Homo sapiens: one gene and its partners. The protein of the gene in region 1 interacts with the protein of each later gene in a biochemical or structural test. Each region holds a gene or a part of one and is shown in the gene's direction. Other genes may lie near its edges.

Region 1 (7,022 bases):
AGTAGAGAGAGGAATATGGTAGGATTTTGCAGTAGAGTTTTGTTTTTAAACTGAATGTAAACTTAAAACTATTTAGTGTCTATAGGAAGCAATCTTAAAAATAAGGTTAGATACCTTAAAATAGAACTTGTTTCTTGAAATATTTTTTAGTTCCCATATAGATCATACGAAAAGATGACTGTCTATGCCCAATAAAAATTTTTATGGTATTTCACATCATTCGTTTTAAAATCTAGTATGTTTAAAAGTGAAGACTAAAGATTTTAAATTAGTATACTTACTGATTCATACATACACACATATTTAAAAATGTGTAGCTCCTTTTTTAAGTTGTTGGAAAAGTACAAAATCATGTGTCCTTTTTTGTTTTGTTTTGAGACTGAGTTTTGCTCTTGTCGCCCAGGCTGGAGAACAGTGGCACGATCTGTGCTCACTGCAATCTCTGCCTCCTGGGTTCAAGCAATTCTCTTGCCTTAGCCTCCCCAGTAGCTGGGATTACAGGCGCGTGCTACCACGCCCAGCTAATTTTTGCATTTTTAGTAGAGATGGGGTTTCACCATGTCGGCCAGGCTGGTCTTGAACTCCTGAGCTCAGGTGGTGCACTTGCCTTGACCTCCCAAAGTGCTGGGATTACAGGCGTGAGCCACCATGCCCGGCCGATTATGTGTTCTTGATATGAAGACTATAGTAATCAGTTACTTACAGTGGGACTTTTATTTTAATTCAAAATAACACTTTAAAATTCTAGGAACTGAATATGTTTTTCCTGAGTGATAACTTGCTTTTAATTCCTGTATGTCCAAAGACTTGAGAGAGAGAGAGAAAGAGGATTGTTTCTTTTTCTTTCTTCCCCTTTCTTCACTGGGTCTCACTTGCTGAGGCTGTTTTCGAACTCCTGGACTCAAGCAGTCCTCTCGCCTTGGCCTCTCAAAGTGCTGCAATTACAGACATAAGTCCCTGCACCCGTTCTGCTTACGTTTCACAAATACTGGGCAGTTGCAAGTTTTGGCTTAGCTGTTCTTCTCTGTTAGGCCAACCAGAGTTACGCTCTGAAAGTGCCAGTTTAGGAGTTAGCCAAAAACCTGTGAGGGATTTTTACATATATTGAGGAGCCCACTTCTCATCTACAGCAGTTTTTCTCTGGTACCCTGTCCCCCAAAGCCTACCTGCCTGCCAGTCTCTCATTGTTTTCATCGAGACTCCCACTGTCTGCCTGGAAACCCATCATTAATTTTAAGCTAGTGGGATAGGAAATGTCATTCAGTAATTATCTGTTTGAACACTTAAATTTACTGGTAAGTAAATGTTGATAAAAATGTTTGGTTTTAAGGCATTACTTACTGTATGTCAATTTTCAGGCCTTAATCATTCTGTGTAAACATTTAAATTTATTCAGTTAAGTAATCAAGTTAATAAGTTCCTGTTGGGTTAAGTACTGTGATTATTGAGTAAAATCAAGACATGGTCTCCGTTCTGGGTGACTTTATAGGCTAATAGAAATTCTTGTACATGTCATATGTTGATAAGAAAAAACATATCCCTTGGGAGGCCAAGGTGGGAGGATTGCTTGAGCTCAGGAGTTTGAGACCAGCCTGGCCAACATGGTGAGACCTTGTCTCTACTAAAAATAAAAAAGAATTAGCCAGGTATCATGGTGCCTATCTGTAGTCCCAGTTACCGTGGAAGCTGAGGCAAGAAGATTGCTTGAGCCAGGGAGATTGAGGCTGCAGTGAGCTATGAGTGAGACCCCATCTCTAAGAAAAATAAAATACAAAAAAAAAAAAAACCCATATTCTTTCAAATAAATATTTACCACCTTTCTGCTCTGCATTCTTTTAGACAATAAATATTTGACTTACATATCTTGTTATGTTAACATAGATCTCTGTTGTTTGCTGCTTCAGTCTGATATCCAAACACTTGTTGCATTGCCCTTTTTTTGGTATCAGTCTTTGTCCTAGTGCCTTTCTTTGGCTCTCTTCTTTTGTTGACAACAATTTATGATAGTATGAAGAGCTACATGGAAGAATGTGGTGAACACCTATTTTAAATTACTGCCCCCAGACTACTTTTCTTTCTGATATTTTTAGATGACAGTGTTAATTTTGTCTAGCCTAAAAGAAGATTTAAGTTCAAGCCAATGTCCATCTTGTTAGGTTCCATTGAAAATATTAAGTTGCCGAACTTTTAGGTTACGATAGGGTAAACAGTATGCCATGAAGGTAAGACCTGCGCATCATTGGCTTGATCACTTTACAAAGCTTTTTTGTCATCATAATGTTGTTTTGTTTTGTTTTGTTTGTTTTTGAGACAGGGTCTTGCCGTGTTGCCCAGGCTGGTCTCAAACTCCTGGGCTCAAGCAATCCTCCTATTAATCCTCCTATTAATCTCCCGAGTAGCTGGGATTGTAGAGACGCACCACAGTGCCCAGTGATACAGTTGTTATACTCTTGAAACTTTAGTTTCCATCCTGTATCCTTCCTGATACCCCCTTCAGTACCATATGCAGTATCTTAATATGATGGTATGTTAAGAAAGATAGAAGATTTTCCCAACTTTGTTGCATAGTCTGTGACAGTCTTCCTGCTATTTAAAAAAAAAAGTGCAAGTGGAAGGATAACTATAAATACTGTTATATTTTCAAATTTGAGAAACCGTTTGCTCTTTGCTCTTAATGAAGAGATATGAGAATAGAGAATGGTTCTTTAGAGTTTGGTCTGTGGTCTGTTTTATGAAGCAATCTGCTTTAATTCCTTCTTCTTAAAAAATACTACTAGTGCCGGGTGTGGTGGCTCACGCCTGTAATCCCAGCACTTTGGGAGGCCAAGGCAGGTGAATCACAAGGTCAGGAGTTCAAGACCAGCCTGACCAACGGGGTGAAACCCCGTCTCTACTAAAAATACAAAAATTAGCCAGGCATGGTGGCACACATCTGTAATCCCAGCTACTTAGGAGGCTGAGGCAGGAGAACTGCTTGAACCTGGGAGGAGGAGGAGGTTGCAGTGAGCCAAGATCGCACGACTGCACTCCAGCCTGGGCAACAGAGAGAGACTCTGTCTCAAAAAAAAAAAATTATCAGCATATCAGTTCAGGTTTAGTTAGAATATTGCTGTCATAGATGTGTTAAGACATTTAAAATAATGTTTTATATTATTTTCCACTAGGAAACCACCCCTACTCCTAATCCCCCGACTACAGAAGAGGAGAAAACGGAATCTAATCAGGAGGTTGCTAACCCAGAACACTATATTAAACATCCCCTACAGAACAGGTAAGCTTTCTAACACCTAGGTTTTCTGAGTTAGGCCACAAGGTAAATTGTGAATGGGGCAAGTTTGAAGGGAAAGTTAGATTATGAGACTAGTTTTAGATATGCTAAGGTTGAGGGTTCTATTTTCACTTGGATGACCCATGACCAGCAGACAGTTTTATGTGTGAGTCTTGAGTTCAAAAGGAGCTATGTGAGAGATTAGTTTGAAAAGTATTGGTCATAATGGAAGCCACATTAGTAAATAAGTTCCCTTAAGGAGAAGTGAACTTGACTCAGGACAAAGACCGGGGATACTAGCATCATATAGGAGGCTTTTGTTGAAGAAGAATGCCTATGAAGGATGGACATACAAAGACAGTGGTGGTCGCCCAACGCGGTGGCTCACGCCTGTAAACCCAGCACTTCAGGAGGCGGAGGCGGAGGCGGAGGCGGGCGGATCACCTGAGGTCAGGAGTTTGAGACCAACCTGGCCAACATGGTGAAACCCCGTCTCTACTAAAAAATACAAAAATTAGCTGGGTATGGTGGCAGACGCCTGTAATCCCAGCTGCTCGGGAGGCTGAGGTGAGATAATTGCTTGAACCCAGGAGGTGCAGGTTGCAGTGAACTGAGATCGCGCCATTGCCTGCCAGCCTGGGCAACAAGAGCGAAACTCCATCTCAAAAAAAAAAAAAAGAGACAGTGGTGGTCATGGAAACCAAGAAGGTGGTTTATTCTAAGATAGGGTGGTTTACAGCACATGTGCTAAAAAGGTCAAATGAAGCAAGATGTCAAAATATCCATTGGATTGAACACTTTTAAAAAAGTCCGTGCTGACTTGGGAAAAAGTTTTTTAGTAAGGTTCCATAGAGTAGTTCCATAAAACATGGAAAAAGAGATTAGGGCAGTTTGAAGAGTGAATAGGAGATATACAGATGTATAGAGTAAGAACAGGTGACTTGAAGTTGGACTGAGAATGAGAAACGAGAGCCAGGGAATGTGGAGTTTGAAGGTTGGTTGGTTTGTAAGTGAGAGACTAGAAAAGGGGACAGATTAAAATTAGTTAAGTTTTCATAGTTAATAGTGTAACAGGAAATTGAGTATTAGTTCATTATATGGCTTTTCCCAACTCTTCCCACTCCTTTCCAGTAGGTTTGTTTTTATTTATTTTCTGGGGTATATGAGAATTAACTTGAGTTCACTGAATGCTGATGGTGGGAAGAAAATGGCAGTTCAGAAACATTGTAACAATCTAGAGGAAAGTAAATTGGAATTAACTTCTGAGGTTCTTGAAGTATTTCAGTTCATTTCTTGTCTTTTTTTGTTTTTATTTACTTTTTTTAGGGCAGACCATTCACTCTCTACTTAAAAGAGTCCACAAGTCTATTTATAATTGTTTCATTTATTAAAATTTTTTTATGATCTCAATTTTTTTAAATGTTTCCTTTATTCATCATGGAAGACCTACTGAAATAAATAGTTCAAATATGCTGTATGCAGTTTTCTCATAGGAGACCCTTTGGTTCAGTATATCCTCCAGTGAGGAACAAATCAGTTTTTTAGACAATGGAGATTCTCAGCTAGTGGGACATCAGAGGTCAAACAGTCTATAAAGGATAAAATCCTTCCTCAGGGAAGCAATGTACCACATGTATTAGGTTGAACAATTCGTTAGAGGCAGTCTTATATAGTTTAACCTAATAGTAGCACCAAAACCCACATTTTTTTTTCATTTTTTTCAGTGATATGAAACAAACTGTATATCTTCTAGCTGTCTGTGAACCTAGTTCTTGGTGTCACTTTTATTGTGGGGAGAAGTAAACAAGGCATATATCCCTCACAGCTTGAATGGAGTCTAAGAAGGGATTCTTAAGTGTCCTCATCAGTTTAAAAAAAAAAAAAAAGTTTAAATCTTAAAATGAAGTCTCTGGGGACTTCAGTTTCTCTATAAATTCTACTTTTTGTGTAAAATAGCAAGTATCATTTGGAAAAATACTATGTTTTATGGCTCCAATTTTGGCAGTTTTCTCATTATTTACTTCTTGCATTTTACTTTCTTCACTCCCCAGAGTAGTCAATGTTAAATTTGGTTTGTATTCCAGAAGTATTAAATGCACATATGTATACTTTTTAATACATACGTCTATACAGTTGACTTTTCTGTTTGTATGTGCATATTTTACCTCATTGTTTTAAACCACCGTCTTGCATTATATTGATATACCACCATATATTTTATTAGGTTTACATTAATGGCTGTATAGATTTTTCTTTTTACACACAGTGCTGTAATTTACATCCTTACATAATTGTGCACTTGTGTGAATATATAGGGTAAAATTTCAGATCTCCTAGAACAAAGATTACCCTTTAACAACCTTTGCGCAGATACTGCCACATTATTCTGTTTTATTGGCTTAGACTTAACAGTTTGAGAGTTCCTGGTTTCTATATCCTTGCTAACTCATGTGATTAGTCTTTTAAGTTGTTGCCAATCAGATTGGTCCCAGTCTGATTTGGGAAAACAATTTCAGTATTTTCAATTTGCATTTTAAAATTGAAGTTTCAAAATATTTTCATATTGATGATTTGTGGTTTTTATCTGAGGACAGATTATTCAGTTCTTCTATTTTTTTTCTTTTGGATTATCTTTTTTTTCCCCTACTTTCAAGCTAACAAGTTATGGAATATCTTTTCAAGTTTATTTCCAAGCATTTTATATTAGAGTGCTAACTCACCCAAGGCAGGGAAGTTGGAGGAGTATTAAGTCAGAAAGAAACAGGTTATCCATATCATTTGTCTTCTAACATTGTCTGTGGAATTGTATGGTTTTTTTTTTTTTAGAGGTCTTTAATTTTCATGTAGGCAAATACTGCTTTTCCTCAGTGGTTTCTGGGTTTCATATCAATTTTAGGAAAACTTTACCACACAGTTAAGCTTTTTTTTTTAAACTTTTTAATAGTTGCATAGTAGTCACTTGCGTGGATGTATGATATTTTATTTAAATCAGCAGTACTCAAGTATTTGGTCTCACAATTCCTTTACACTCTTAAAAATTATTGGTGACTCTACAGAGCTTTATGTGGATTTTTATCTATTGTTATTTACTATATTTTTACAGTAAATAATGCTAAGATGTTATTTTATTTTTCACATTTAAAAATGTATAATTTCACCTGAAAAACTTGAGAAATGTAAAATTATTCGTTTAGAAAATCTATCACATGTTAACCTAAGTGACATTTTGTAATGAAAATAATTATTTGAAATAAAAAATATATAATGGGAAGAACAGCATTTTTGCCATCTGTTTTTTTTTTTTTCGGAGTCTCGCCCTGTCGCCCAGGCTGGACCTCCACCTCCCGGGTTCAAGCGATTCTTCTGCCTCAGCCTCCCTAGTAGCCGGAACCACAGGTGTGTGCCACCATGCCCGGCTAATTTTTGTAGTTTCTAATAGAGACGGGGTTTCACCATGTTGGCCAGGCTGATCTTGAACTCCTGACCTCATGATCCACCCACCTCGGCCTCGCAAAGTGCTGGGATTACAGGCATGAGCCACCGCACCTGGCCGCATTTTTGCCGTCTTAGAAGTCAACTGGATTTTCATAGCTGTTTCTGCCTTCAGTCTATGGAGTTAAGATGTTTCATTGGAAGTATAAGAAGACAATACAGCCTCACACAGGTATTTGGTTGGAAAAGGGAGAATAGTTTTTAAAAGCCTTTAAAAATAATTGTTGATATGCTCCTTTGATACACTACTAGGTTTCTTTTT
Region 2 (7,825 bases), on another chromosome or scaffold:
TCTTAAAATGATCTGCAAAGAGTGGGAAATTAGATTTTCGATTAAAACCTTATCCCATCTCGAAGGATTACTTTATATTGATTCTTAAATATGGCTACAATTGATGGACTCTAATTAAAAATCCAAAGGAAAAGTCTGTCGTGCCCATATAAAAGAAGCTTTTCATATACGGGAAATAAAGCTTGTAAAAGGTTACAAATAAAAGATTAGAGATTTATCCAAACTAGTTTAAAGCTTCACTGTGGTTTTCTTTTCTTCTTTTTTCCTTTCTTACAAAACCATTCCTGGGTCTTTTTTTTCCCCAGTTTTAAATGAAGTTTGCAAACAGGCAAGATATTGGACTGTAATGGTTGTTTTATATCAGCTCTGTAAGCTCAAGGCTGCTGCCTGCAGTAGAATTGATTTCAAGGAAACTTCAGGACCAGGAGATGAAAATTATGTAAACTGACAGCTACCACCCTTCATCAATCCATCCACATTCCCGTCCACACCCTTCTAACACACACACACACACACACACACACACACACTCTGCCTCACACTTCTCTCTGTCTCACATCCACACATGCCCTTCCTATCCCTCACCCTAACCTTGCTCTGCACACACCCTTGGTCCCCACACTCTCAGGGACAGAGGCACAGCTCCCGGCTCACACTCCGCTCATAAATGTCTCACAGCACCACATCTCGCACTTGTCACACAATCTTAATCCGTTTCATTCCGGAACAACATGGTCCTCTTTTCCTCTTTTTCGCATTTGGAGTTTGCCTCCCTACTCTTTTATCGAGACAGCCCAATCCTATCTTTGAAGTTGTTTCTTTCTCCCTTACCCTCTTTTTTGAGGCAACCGCAATGCAGGGAGTGAGAGACCCAAGCTTAATTTATAAGTGATCTGTTGCCTTATTTTTTCCCCTAAATTTTGTCTGCATTTCCAGTCTTAAATCCTTGTTAAAAAAATTAAGGTTAATCTCCTCAAAGTTTATAATAAAGATATATCTAAAAACCTAATGAAAAAATGACTTCTTTCTAGGTATTATGGTGCTTCTAAGGCAAAATGTAGTCCCTCACTGTCCAGTGAATTGCTGAAAAGATTGGAAATTAATGTTCATATTTCTGAATTCAGTGTTAAGGAAGTCTAACTGGCTCCTTTCCCCCAAAAGGCTATGTTCTCACGGAATATGGGTTTTGTTCTTCTTTTTTAATTAGCCTGGAAGAATCCCGGGATGTCTTCTCTCCCCTCCCCCTCCCCCACTCCCCCCACCAAAGTTAATAAACTTGGAGGAAAGTTTGGAATATTTTAAACTGGCCTGGCTTGTGCGGTGGAGAAATTGAGCCTAGTTAGTGCCACACATGAATCTTGATTTCAAAATATGCATATTAGACATATTCTAGAAACTGCACACAAGCTCTGACAAATAATTTGATTCCCTTCGTATTGGCTTTCTTAATTTAGCTTCTGAATGCTTATATCTCATATGCGTAGCAAAATAATTGTACAAGTGGCAATTAAAAACCATCCACTTTTTAATGAAAATTATTTAAAAACACAAAGCATGCTACCATAAGTCAGATTCATAGAAAAAAAATGTTAACGACACAGGACACAGAAAAAAAGTTAAACACAGAAATACAATGAACAGATACTAGGTAAATTGGAAGTTCAAGAACTTACTGAAAATCAAGAGTTAGACTTTTCATCCAAAGAGTCTTTTTCTCCCACCAAGCATCTAAGGTTTTCAGTAAAAGAGCCCAGCCCCCTTCCCCCAAAGCCAGTGGCTTTTGTCCTGACCTAGAATAGGGTTTGTGGGGACTGTACCTGAGCCGGGCAGTCTGCAATTTCCAAATTGACAAGAAGAGACTGGAAGATAAAGAGCATGTTCTTACAGGTGAAGAGCAATTTTGCAACTTTTCAAGGCGACACCCAGGAGAAAGCTTGCCTGCTACCAACTGCTGCAGAGTCTGGGCAGAATTCCTCTAGAAAGAAAAAGAAAGTCTTTCACCCCCCCCCCCCTTCCTTGTCTGCCTCTCTCTGTCTCTAGTTCTCTTTCTCCTCTCTGTCTCTCTCTCTCAGATCCAATCTTTTAAGAGCTTCAGCACATTGCTAAGCTAAAGGGAAATTCTCTTTGATAAAGCGGTGTTTCCAGCTTCTGGGTTTTAAAACCTAAATCTATATTCAAATCTGGCTGAAGGTGTGTTCTGGGATTTATGAAAGCCTCTTAAAGGGGTAAATTTACCAAACCGTGACAAAATCATCACAATCTTACTTTAGACATCTGAAGTGGATGAGAATTTTAAAGAGACCCTTGTTTATTTAACACTGTCCATTTCCAACTCGTAGTTTATTGGCCCTGTATTTCTGCGAAGTTATTAGACTAGAGGGCAAAGGAGAAGCGGGAGCTGTCTGCTGCCGGCCGCTGGAAGGGCAAAACCCTCTCACGCCCCACCATGCATAAATCTGCCCCTGTCGAATAGAACAGGGGGATTTTTAGGGAGATTCAGCTGCCCCCGCCATCTGGGAGGACATCGCAAACCTCTACATCGGGCTTGAAAGGTTACCCTGGACACTGGACCCTACGGCAGATGGATCTCCCAGTCCAAAATGGTTTACTTGGTTTAGCTCACAAGCGCATGTTCTGATCATTCTCCATCCCACCCCATGCCCACTGTCCCCAAGGCCTTCCTCCGGCCTTCCCCTCTGCCAGATTCACAACGTCCATTTTTCTTTTTCGGCTCTTTTATGCTTTAAACATCATTGTGATCAAACTGGGGGAAACGTTGTCTTTTCTAGGGGTAGGAAGGAGACTCTGCTTCAGGTGATCGAGGTGGATTTGCCTTTCCTTCATCGAAAGCATCATGACTCTGACCAAGCGCACCCAACCAGTGCCTCCGACAGCCAGCGCCACGAGGGTCATAACGCCCGGGGCATTTGTTACCCCCTCCTCACCACCATCCCCATTAAAGGCTTCGGGGGCGGCCGCCAGGTGTTTCAGTACAGTGGGGGTGGGGTGAGAAAAAAGGTCGGTACTCACCCTCCCCCCCGCCCGGGCCCCTAGAAACTCTTGACTCCTGGGAACGCGACAGCCAGCGGGTCTCCGGACTGGAGCTGCTGCAGAGGGCCGGGAAGGAGCTGGGCGGGCTCCGGGCCCCTCGGGGGCTCGAGGGGCCGCCAGGGCCCAAAGCTCTAGGGACACCTGTGACAGGGGCCGCTGCCGCGGAGTCCCCAGCCCCAGGCCGAGCCCGAGCCGGAGCCCGGCTGCCGAGAGCTTGCTGCCTCGTGCGCACTCCCGTAATTCGTTAATTGCTGTAAATCCCAAGGACGGCCACATTTGAGTACACATACAGTATAAGAACCGACAACAAAGCGACGAATTAATTACCAACTTCATTAACATAGGTCCCCAAATTAAAGGCAGCGAGCTGTTTCTTTGGGCCCACTGGCCGTGGTGGTGATGGTAGTTGGTGGTGGGTGGGTGGCGGGGGGTGGGGTATTTAGGAAGAGATTTTATTTTTCTTTTCCTGCACTGGGTGTTGTGAAGCAAGAGCTGTCTTCTGCTCCCACCCCCACCCAGCTTATTCACACACACTCACCAGTTCCACTAGCCACCCCCCACCCCACACTCCGCCCAGTCTGTTTTTGCTTTTCTAGGGACTCGGATCCGTTTGAAACCTGTCCGGTCCCTGCTTTCTATGCCAGGCAAAAAAGTTGGGCTGGGGGTCGCACTCTCCGGCTCGGGCCCCCAGGTCCCATCACTTCCCAGCCTCTGGGCTCGCAGCCCGGGGCTCGGGCGGCGCCAGCCCAGGTAGCTCCAGGCCTCGCAGTGTCGGTCGTTTGGTGGCGTTTGTTCTAACACAGAAACTGTTTCCAACGGGGGCCTCCCTCGTTCGCTCTCTTCCACGATATCTTGTCGACCTCACACTCGCATCCTCGAGGCCCGATGTGGTCCCAGCTACTTCTCCTAAATGGGCCCTGAGATTAGATTCCGGGGTTCGTGTTCCCTGCAGTCTGTCGTGGGCTTCTCAATTCCAAAAAACCCCAGGAACCTACCAGAAGCCGGGGTCTCTCACTCGGGGATCATTTATTTATATGTGTAAGGATATTTATAAGGGCGTAGGGAATAGAGAAGACACTGAGTTTTAGAAAATAGTTTGTTCTTGGACTTGTGTATCTTTCTCTCTCTGTTTTCCCTACATGCCCACATCGCACTCCCAGGCCTCCCTCCTTTACCCTTTCTGGCCGTCAGCGTGCTCTGGCCCTGTCTGAGACGGCATAGTGGTGTTTTTGAGTTTCAGTCTGACTTGCTTTCTGCCTGTCATCCACACACTTATTGCTGGGGTTGAATGTGATAACCCAGTCACTCCCTAACCCGCCATTCTCCAGCATTTACTTAAATATTTTTATCTTCCATCTTACATTGCATGGGTTTCCTTTCTTCCCTTCCCTAAAAACAACAACAACAAAAAAAAAAAAAAAAAAAAGAGAGGAAAGGAAATTTCGGAGTAAAGGAAGCAGGGGAAAAGAGGGTAAGAGAAGAACTCCCTGTCCATCATTTTAATTATACAATTAGTTCACATGCTCCGGCCCATAATGTATATTTTAAGCAAAGCCCAGTGTCTTTAAAGAACATTCTGGTAATGTCGGAGGCCTGGATTTGTTGCCTGCTCGTCCCCCCGTGCAGCAGCGGCCTGTTTTCCTCCCCCTGTTGTGTGTTTTTATTATTTTCCCTCTGGCTTAGATGTGTCAATCATTCTCTCCCTGCCATTGGTTGGAGAGTTTGCGTCAAAAAGTTGCCAGAGAGGCGCTTTCTCAGCAAATCTCCCTGAGAGCGGGACCGGCCTCAGCTCCAACACAGCCTCCACTGTGATTAAAAATAAAAATTGCTAGAGCAGCCCTCACTCGCCACATCTACTTTGTATGTATTGCAGAGGGGCCCACGCGTGTTTAGAACTCTAGCCGCCTTCCTCATTTTCGTTCTTTAAAAAAAATTTTTTTTGGTTGTGTTTGACTTTTCATGGAAGGGTGAAGACTGCAAGGTTTCTAACTCAATACTCTTGATTTCTTTTAGGATAGCTGGCTATTTGGAATTTAAAGGATATTTGACTTTTTCTAACCTCCCATGAGGCTGTAAGGTAAGTGTCCGTCTGTCTTGTCTATATCCATATCTACGTGTCCCCGTGTCTGTCGGCCATCACCCCAGTACCTCCAATAGACCGACCGATGCCCCTCTGCGAACGTGGAGTTCTGTAGGCGGATGTATTTTTTCTCTTACAAATTTTGAGGTGTAATAACGATCGTTGCAAAAAGAAAAATGTGATCTAGAGATGAGAGCGGTAGTGGGAGAGAGGCAGAGAGCGTGCTCCTGGGGGTCGTCGCTTCTGCAAAACGTCGTCGAAACGCTGCGAATGTAATCTGGGGTGTTTTGGAAGGTTTTGTTTGTGGTTTTGTTTTTATGTCAACGCCGTTCTGGGCTTCTCCCGCGATCTTTGCGTTTTGGCCCCCAGATTTGGTTGGGGTCGTTTGGATGGATCCCAGGGACCTTTTTAGAGTCCGAGACAAAAAGATGCAGATGTAACTAGATGGATGGATTGAAACAACAATAATAAAAAGCCAGGCGCCTCCTTGGGCCCGCGCGCCGGAAGCTCGGTTCGCTTGCGGGTCGGCCTGGGCCGGGGGCCGCCGCTCGAGCCCCTGTCGGCCCCTGTTGAACGTGAGCGGAAACCGGAGCGGATAACCGAGGAGGCTGGGAGCGCTGGCTTCTCGTCCGCCCCGGCGCTCACTGCTCGCTCTCTTTGGCCTCCTCTCCCTCAGCCTAGCACAGCTCGGTTGTCTGTTTCTCCCAAAAGCTTCCAGATCTCCTTTTTGTTTTTAAATATCCACCACCCCCCAAAATCCAAACCACCCTGGGTTGTAATTACGCAGCCTCCCAACCCCCGGTTGTCGTGGTCCCCGACCCTGGTCACCAGGCCGAGCGAACGTGAAGAGTGTTTTTTCAACATGACTTTGCCGGGTCGCGGCCCGCCCCACGTAGCCCTCCGCGCGCACCTGGGGCGGGCAGAAGTGGCAGCTAGTGGCCCCTGCTCCGCCCAAGGCCGCGGCCGGGCCAGGGACCGGAATCCTCCCGCTGGGACCGCGGCCCCTCAGCTGTTCTCTGGCGGGGAGAGGCAGGGCTCGCCCGCGCGCTCGCGCACCCCCTTCCCAGGCTCCAGGACAATGAGGTGTCGTGGCTCGGGGCCGGGCGGGGGCCGAGGGGTTCGCCGAGGCCCAGCCTGTGCCATGGATCGGCCCAGTAAGAACCATCCGAAGGTCCCTGCCAGCGCCGGGCGCGGGCGACGGGTCGCTCTGCAAACTCCCAAGAAGTCTTCGCGTTGTTGCGTTCAAGTGACTCTTGAAATCGATGCCCGATTTCGGGACATATTTTTGGAAACCCAAGTCCCCTGTCAGGATTCCACCGAGTTGGCTTTTGCTTCCTTCACAGATAGAACTGGTGCGCGGGGAGCGAAGGCCGAGCGGCGCCGACCCTGCGGTGGTGGATTGCTTGGGGAGGGGACGGGGAAGTCGCTCCTAGAAATTCTCCCCTCCATCCTAGAGCTTCGGGGTCAGGATTTCTCCTGCTCAGCTCGGGACTTTTTACAGGCACCAAAAGTTATTAGCAACAGAGGGGAGTAGGAGAGGGAACTCCTCCCCCCAGAGTAAGGTAGACACCCAGACCTCAGCGCTAACACCGGGGCTTTCTCCCAACGATAATTAATAGTCAAGGCCAACCCTTTTGGCACGTTTCTTCCTCCCTCCCTCGCGGGTGGCAGAGTTATTTGATTCCCCGAGGCCAGAAACTTTCACTCGAGTTCGCCGGAGAGAGGCCAGCGCCGGCCGTTTTCCGCGGTGCCCACACGTCTCCTTTTTCTTTCTTTCCTCCTCTTCGTCGTCTTCCCAGCCGCAGGCCAGTCGCCAGTCCGCGTAGTTTTGTTTCCTTTCCATCATGCAGAAAATTAATCAGCCCGGACGAGAAGCAGAGAGGAGCATGGCGGCCTGTAATTAAGGGACGTGTGCCCCTCGGATTATCTCGTTAGTTTATCAAGAAAACATTTATTATAATTAATTCTCGGACGAGGTAATTATTGTTGAGCGAGGACACAGCAACTGGTAGATGGGCTTCTTGGAAGAAAAAAAAAACAAGGCGTGGGGGAGGGAGAAGCGACAGATTGCACGAATTGACCGTTAGATATAAGGCTGCGCGGGGGGCGCGGGCAGTGGAGCGGGACCTCGGGCGCCAGGCCTGCGGGGCTGCGGGGCTGCGGGGCTGCGGGGCTGCGGGGCTGCCGGGCAGGAACGCGGGACCCAGGCACTCGCGCCCGGAGGTGCGGTCGCCGACCGGCTGCCGGAACTCGCCGCGCGACCGCGGTCAGCTTCTAGGTATGAGTTCTCCAGAGGCCACCTCGTGAGCAGTCATAGTGAGGCGTGGATTTTTCAAAAGTTATTTCTTTTCCCCGTTCTGGACCCTGCTTCGAGAGGAAAAGAGCTTTGAAAGTTAGATTGAAGGGCCCATGCCTTCTATGCAGAGTGCATACCTAGGCCGGTTGTGGAGAGAATCTCTTAGTTTTGGGTTTTGGTTTTCCTCTTTTCCTTTTAAAGGTGGATCCAGGAGCAAAAGTGAAAATAGTCTATTTTGAGAATTTTAGCCATTTTGCAATGGTAAGGGCAAAGGAGCCCCTGGAAGGATCTCGGCCCTGGTGCTTTCTGTGTGTTACTGGCTTTTTATGTTGGAATGTGCTACTTTATTGTATGATGTGTCAGGCATTTCTAATTGGGTGAGAGCTCTACATGTAAGA
Region 3 (7,022 bases), on another chromosome or scaffold:
CCTGCTACACATATAACAAATATTTTGGGCTTGGTTGACTTGCTATTAATTGTATCATGCTATATAAATTTAGATTTATGCACCTTCTGACACCTAATATACTCAGCGGTTTTTTTTATGGAGCCTAATAGATGCTGTTACACATTAGGAAACACATTTATAACAATCAAATGGTCTTGACTGTAAGTTAGCAATCTAGTATCTAACTTTCTTGTTTGTGCTAACAGCCTCATCAAGGCAGTAGCCATGAGTTAAATGAATCATTACATTAAGAGCTGAAGTGTTAGTACCACAGATTAGTAGAGAGTGTCTTTTTTTTCTTTTTCTGGAATGGTTCTTAGGTGACTCATTAGCAAAAATTACATTTGAGAGACGTCCATATTTGTGATTTAAATATAAATTAAGGTAAAGTACATAAATGAAGTGGATATACTTGAGAATCAGAATAAGATTGTTAGAGTTGAATATTAGACCTTTGTTTTGTTTAATGATGAGATTGCGGAGCTACTTGCTAGAGACTAGGAAGTAGCATTCTCCTATTCCAGGTGGATTTTTTCCTCTCCTGGTTAAAAACAGATACTTTGTTAGCTGAGAAAAATCAGAACTCTTCCTGGTAAACATACAGCTCTATTTTTGATGCTAAATTCTGTGATTTTAGCATGGATAGATTTAAAACACTTTTAACTGGCATCATCCCAGTTTGTTCATATACCAGAGATTATAAACTACCCTTTTTCTCCCCTCCACAGCACAAAATACAGCTTCTAATTTGTTTTTCTGAAATCTGTGTAGGTCTTTTGAAGAAATGCTTCTTTATTAGAAGTGTTGCATGTGTGATTTTTGTTTTGTTTTGTTTTGTTTTTAGCTAACTGTGTGTCAACAGTTGTAGAATTCTTTTATTTTTTCCAGTATGTTATGATCTCTAATTTCTTGTTTTGGCAACTCTTTATTGGCTTATACTGTATGGCTTGAGGGAAAATTTTCTGGTAATATCCCACACTTTCTTGTACTTCCTACTAAAGTATGGAATGATTAACTAGTGGAGGTATTTCTCAGTCTTTTTGTATTAATAGTTATAATTTGCCATGCATTTTTTCGTGTATTTGGTCCAAACTCTGGTTAAGTGCCTTATTCCTAAAACTACCTAGTTCAATCTACCTGCTTCAATATGGTGTGTCTAATAGAACTAGTTTTAGGTTAATATTACCTGGTTTGGGTTTACTCCAGGATTTCTCTCTTATCTTGATTTTTGTTCTGCATTTACTGCCTTCCTGTTCCAGTATTTCAGTTACAATCTAACTGCTAGGAACAGATTGACACTGAAAATAGATACAGAATCCATGGTGATACATAATGTAGTTCAAGTTTTTAACTTTTCAAGCGACATGTAGCTATTTTTCTTTACATTTTTGCTATTTCTTTTTATTATAAATTAGCAAATTATATATTTATGGAGTACAAAGTGATGTTATGATTTGTGAATATAATGCGGAATGATTAAATCAAACTAATATATCCATCACCTTAAATACCCTTTTTAATGGTGGGAACATTTGAAATTTACAATCTTGCCAATTTTGAAATGTACATATACTATTAACTGTATTCACCATGCTGTACAATAGATACCAAAACAAAACAAAACAAAACAAAAACCTAATTCTTCCTGAGACTTTGTACCCTTTTACCAACATTCCCATATTCCCACCACCTCTAGCCTCTGGTAACCACCATTCTATTCTCTACTTCTATGAGTTTGATTGTTTTAGATTCTATGTATAAGTGAGAACAGGCAGTATGTGTCTTTCTGTGCCTGGCTTATTTCACTTATCATAATGTCCAAGTTCATCAGTGTTGTTGGAATTGACAGAATTACCTTTTTAAAAGCTGAATAGTGTTTCATTTTAAAGAATCCACATTTTCTTTATTCATCCGTTGTTGATGGACACTTAGGTTGATTCTGTAACTTGGCTATTGTGAATAATGCTGCGATGAACACAGGGCTGCTGACATCTGTTCTACGTATTGATTTAAAATATTTTAGATATATATCCTGAAGTGGGATGGCTGGATCTGTATTTTTACTGTTTCTACTAGCAGAAATGATCTCATTTGGGCATTTCTAAGCACTTTATAATCAACTCAGTTAATTAAGAGGACTGAATTCTCAATAGGAAGTCATTGTTTAAAACACATGCACTGACCGTACAGTCACTTTTTTTTTAAACAAAGGTAATTTTGAAATCTGCAATTGAATAATATTCTTGTATTAATGAACTTGCATAGCCTAACAGTAGTAATGTTCATCTGGATAACAGGTTTAGGGAACTTGTTTTCAGTGAGGAGGATAAGGACATTCTCAACTTAGCAAACTCTACAGTAAAGATAAGGTTTATTTATTTTATTTTTTATTTTTATTTTTTGACTCTCCTCTTTAGACCAGGGATAAGATTTATTTTTATTAAAATTTTGTGGAAGATTTTTTCCTTTCCAGAGTGTAGTTTTATAGTCTTTGGTTTTTGTCGTGAAGTTTTATATTTTGTCCTTATGTGTTTTGATTCCTTTTAAATAATTAATGGGTTCACAGAGGAGATTTCAAGTGATGAAGAGGAGACAAATGTAACTGCTCAAGCAATGCAGTCAAATAATGGAAGAGGTGAAGATGAGGAGGAGGAAGATGATGACTGGGATGAAGAAGTATTGGAAGAAACCGCGCTTGAGGGGTTCAGTACTCCACTTGACCTTGACAATAGTGTGGATGAATATCAGTTTTTTACACAAGCTCTGATAAGTATGTCTTTACTTCCCCACATCTTCTGATATTTTTTTTTCTAAACTCTTTCTTCATTTCTTCCTGTTTTGATATTTGCCCAAGATTGGTCTAGGTTCTTTTAAAAATTTTTTTGTTTATTCCTTATGATAGAAATCCCCAAACATACATACATGAAATGATAGAAATTAAAATAATGAAACACCTATCACCCAATCCTAGCAGCTTTCATCATTGAGAAGTAGCAGGGTGAGCCTGTATGTTATCCTTGCAAAAGTAATATGTGGAGTATCTGTGTATATTGTTCATCCTTTAGGCATAAATGGGCAAGCATTTTTATAGCAAAGAATGAAGTGTTTCAGGCATACATTGCTTAAAAATTGTGGCTAACAACCTACTAGTTATTCACAATCCCTAGAATGAAATTGCTGCCGTAAGAGGGTGACTTTTTACTTTGTAAGTAATTTGCCAATTTTATACAACAAAGAACAGTATAATTACAGTTACAGGACTCATAAATGATTCGGGGGGAGAAAATATTTGCCACATATGCATAATAGGCATAATGTACACAGTGTACAGAGGCCATCCTCAGATACATAAGACCAGTAACCTAGTAGAAAATGGAAATGGAAAATTTACAGAATAAAAACAAGCCAATGAGGATATTTAGAAAATTATTAATCAAATAAATTATTTTAAATCTCATTAATATAGATTATTTGTTTTATGGTTAGATAGTATTTCCATAGTTACATTGTAATTTAGTTCCACTGTGGGACATTTAAGATTGTTTCCAATGTTTTTACCATTATGAGGGTTATTAAAATGAACATCCTTACATGTAAATGTTTTTACTAATAAGGCAATATTAGCTTAATATATTGGCATTTTTTAGTGTTGCTACAAATAACATTAATGAAGAAAAAACTACCTAGATGTTCTTATTGAAATTCAGAGGAATTGGAGGCAGAGAACACAGGAAACTATATTCCAAAGCATGGGAAACGTAACAGCATAAACGTGGAGATGGAAATATGGAGGATGTGGCCTAGTGTAGTTCCAGACATGGGTGTGTCATAATCACCAAGGAGGCTTTTAGGTCTTGAGTAGGATCTCAGGAGATGTATTTTTAAAGATGCTTCTCAAGTGACAAGCAACTTTAAACCAGCATGTAGGGGCCACTGCTTAAAGACTGTGAAGGAACGCAGTTGGGCTGGGCTATAGTGGCCTTGAATTCTGGACTGAGGTGGTCCATCCCATTGCCCATTGGAATAGCGTTGAAAGTTGTGTTCTGAGGCGGTGACCTTTTAGATGTGGTAATTCACTTCAGGGGAGTTACCCGGTGATGGATGATGTGCAGAAAAAACTGGAAAGGACTAGATGTGGGAGCCAAGTGTTAGAGGTTCACTTTATTAATTTAGATGTATAGAGACCTGGAATGGGGAGGGTGACATTTGATGGAAAGCAGCATACAGATGAAAGACATTAAGAAAGAAGCAGAGCTTTGGGTGTGGAGAGGGCATGCTCAGGGATGTTAAGGATGCACAGTAGTGGACTGGGAGACTAATAGAACTGGTGAGATAAATGGAGAGATAGAAGGTTTGGGAGGAAATTGTTAAATTTGGTTTTAGTTGTGTTGAGTTTGAGATGAGCTATTCAAATGGAACAGTCCAGGAGGCTTAGGGGAAGGTTTTTCCTAGAGGTACAGATTTGAATCCTTGGGGTGGTAGCAATACTAAAGCTGCAGGTAGTATGAAAATTCCAGAGGAAAATGGTAACAAGTGAGTACTGGTGTTCTGGATTTTAGAGAACATCCATAGAAGACAGCAAAGGAGACAGAGAACTAGGCAGACTAGAGATTTGCAATGTCCTAACCTTCCTTTGATTTCCCACATAGCTGGGTACTAAGTGGGTACTCAGAAATAATCCTTTGTTGGCGTAAGTTTCATTACCTTGTGTGTGTTGTAGTACTGTACTCTTTGTCTCTTACTGTCTGGGATAATTTCTTTGTAATTTGATCATGTTACTACTTGTTCTGTAAATTAATAGTCGCTGTACCCTCCTGTCTTTTCCTCCCAAAATGCAACAGCTGTGCAGAGTCGAGATGCAGCCTGGTACCAGCTGCTGATGGCACCACTCAGCGAGGATCAGAGGACAGCACTGCAGGAGGTGTACACACTGGCAGAGCACCGACGGACGGTGGCAGGTCAGCCAGAGTAACCTCCAGAGTGGAGTGCATGTGTCAGAGTGCCAACAGACAGCCTTATTTGATGAGCCAGGTGGCACCTAAACACTGTTTTTGAAATTGTTAGAGACTTACCCTTTAAGATAATAAGGAATTGTCATTATTGTATGATTGTTTTAATCACTCATGATGTCTTAGCTTTGCAAAAACCTGCACATTAATATGTATTTCCTAGTGGTGTTCTCATTCACATTCTTATCCTATGTTGGAGGCAAAGGTACAAAGTAAGGGTTGGGATAAGTCTTGCCGAGGGAGACTTAATCAGTTGGATCACTCCCCTAAACATTTCAACCGTGGGCCAAAGGGACTTGACGAATTCTTGCAAGGAGCTTGTATTCCTGGAAATGGAATGCTCTCTATTTCTCATTGTTGGGCTTTATTTGACATTGTTTCTTGTTGTTGATTTTCAGTTTTTAAGCTGGAGGAATTACTCTGTGTTGATTATTGTAGTTACTTGTAGATTGTCATTGGAAAAGATTTTGTAGTTACAAAAAAATTTTAGTAGGAAACATGGCAAACTAGACATCTAGAGTTTAGAATGCTGGCTCTTCTGCATGGACTTAGATTTTCAGTTCTGTGCAGATTCTCAGTCAGCCTTCCTGATATGAGAAGTCTGGGCCCCCTTTCAGCAGTAGAGACAGTGAAGTAGAATCCACCTCTGAGACGTGTTTTCTTTTCACTCGTTTTTTGCAGATTTTCCGATGGTAGTGAACATACCACCTTATTGACATAGGTCTGTTATTCTTAGTTATTCTTTGGCAGGATAACTAATACTACCAGTCACATTCTTTCACAGTTCTAAGCATATAAAGAATCTGGCTCCTTTGAGTCATCTCCAACTTTGTCACCTTAAGCATTCTTTTTTTTTCTTCTCCCCTTTTCTTTTGAAAAATGCTAGAGGCAAAGAAGAAGATTGAACAACAGGGAGGCTTCACCTTTGAAAACAAAGGAGTCCTCTCCGCATTTAATTTTGGGACTGTGCCCAGCAACAACTGAAGGAAAGAACATCAGCTGACCAAATGTCATCGCTGCATTTTATTTCACAAGAGGAGTGTGAGGGTCAAGGGGATGAAATGAGGGGCTGCTTTTAGGGCCCTCCTGCTGTGCCAGTTACCATCTGGCATTAGGCAGCACTTTTATCTACTCTTTCCCCTTTGACCTTTGTCACCCTGAAATATATATTTTAAACAGCTACTGTAAGTATGAAATGAAAGAAAAACAATCATTGGACGGAAAAGGACAACCCATATGTTCCAAAGGCTGAATGCCCAAGGTTGTTTTAGAGGATTGGATAGACTTGCACGTCTCAGGTTTTTGCCATGCAGAATCAATGGATTTATGCGGATAACAGTGCCTTCTGTTGTACATGAATTATCAGAAAAAAATTTTTGGAGTGCATTGCAATTTTTTTTAAAGCATAAAACATATTTCTAGATACAACATAAACCTTGGTTATATGTCAACTATTCTGCATTTTACTCTGTGAATTTATTGTTAGGCAGTTACTGCAAGTCACTCTGGTTTCAAAATCTTCACGGCTCCCTCTGCTCACCCTGCTGCTGGGGGGCTTTTTTCAGGGGTTGTATTATAAAATATGCACTGGCTGTGGTTTTTCATAAGATGTTTTGTGGCTTTTTAAAGAAGTGTCTTACTCCCTCTTCTCTCATTTTTTTCTGCCTTGAAAAGGGGTGGTATTTCTTTTGGGGTCAACAAATACACATATCAGTTTCACTCCTAACCTTGTAAGTTCAGGACTCATTTTCTTGGCAGCAAGTGGCAGGGGCTCTTTAGTCACTGGAGTTAACAGTAAGTCTGAGTATATTCTGAATAATGTAATTATGCAATTAATTGATAATCATACCTAAAGCACATTGAACTTCTAAGAGACAGGTGCTACGTAAGCACACTGTCTTTCTGGATGGGGACTTGTATTTTAAATAACTTATCATTCCAGCTATGTTGGACTAGGGTCCAAAGCATTTTATAATATTTTTTTTTAATCTA

What was found. Proteins that work in one complex are often made in the same cells at the same time.
Region 2: the proteins of EIF4E (region 1) and OTX2 form a complex in vitro, tested with the Homo sapiens proteins (one study listed by BioGRID).
Region 3: the proteins of EIF4E (region 1) and IPO8 form a complex in vitro, tested with the Homo sapiens proteins (2 studies listed by BioGRID and IntAct, with this or other methods).

Annotation. Positions count from the first base shown.
Region 1 is NC_000004.12:98,898,125-98,905,146, reverse strand, and holds part of EIF4E (eukaryotic translation initiation factor 4E), read left to right. Parts: intron 1-3,164; coding exon 3,165-3,271; intron 3,272-7,022. UniProt on the Homo sapiens protein: Acts in the cytoplasm to initiate and regulate protein synthesis and is required in the nucleus for export of a subset of mRNAs from the nucleus to the cytoplasm which promotes processes such as RNA capping, processing and splicing.
Region 2 is NC_000014.9:56,807,462-56,815,286, reverse strand, and holds the start of OTX2 (homeobox protein OTX2), read left to right. Parts: upstream 1-4,807; 5' UTR 4,808-4,911; exon of another isoform or gene 4,912-5,064; 5' UTR 5,065-5,128; intron 5,129-7,825. UniProt on the Homo sapiens protein: Transcription factor probably involved in the development of the brain and the sense organs. Can bind to the bicoid/BCD target sequence (BTS): 5'-TCTAATCCC-3'.
Region 3 is NC_000012.12:30,629,852-30,636,873, reverse strand, and holds part of IPO8 (importin-8), read left to right. Parts: intron 1-2,587; coding exon 2,588-2,791; intron 2,792-4,862; coding exon 4,863-4,979; intron 4,980-5,916; coding exon 5,917-6,014; 3' UTR 6,015-7,022. UniProt on the Homo sapiens protein: Involved in nuclear protein import, either by acting as autonomous nuclear transport receptor or as an adapter-like protein in association with the importin-beta subunit KPNB1.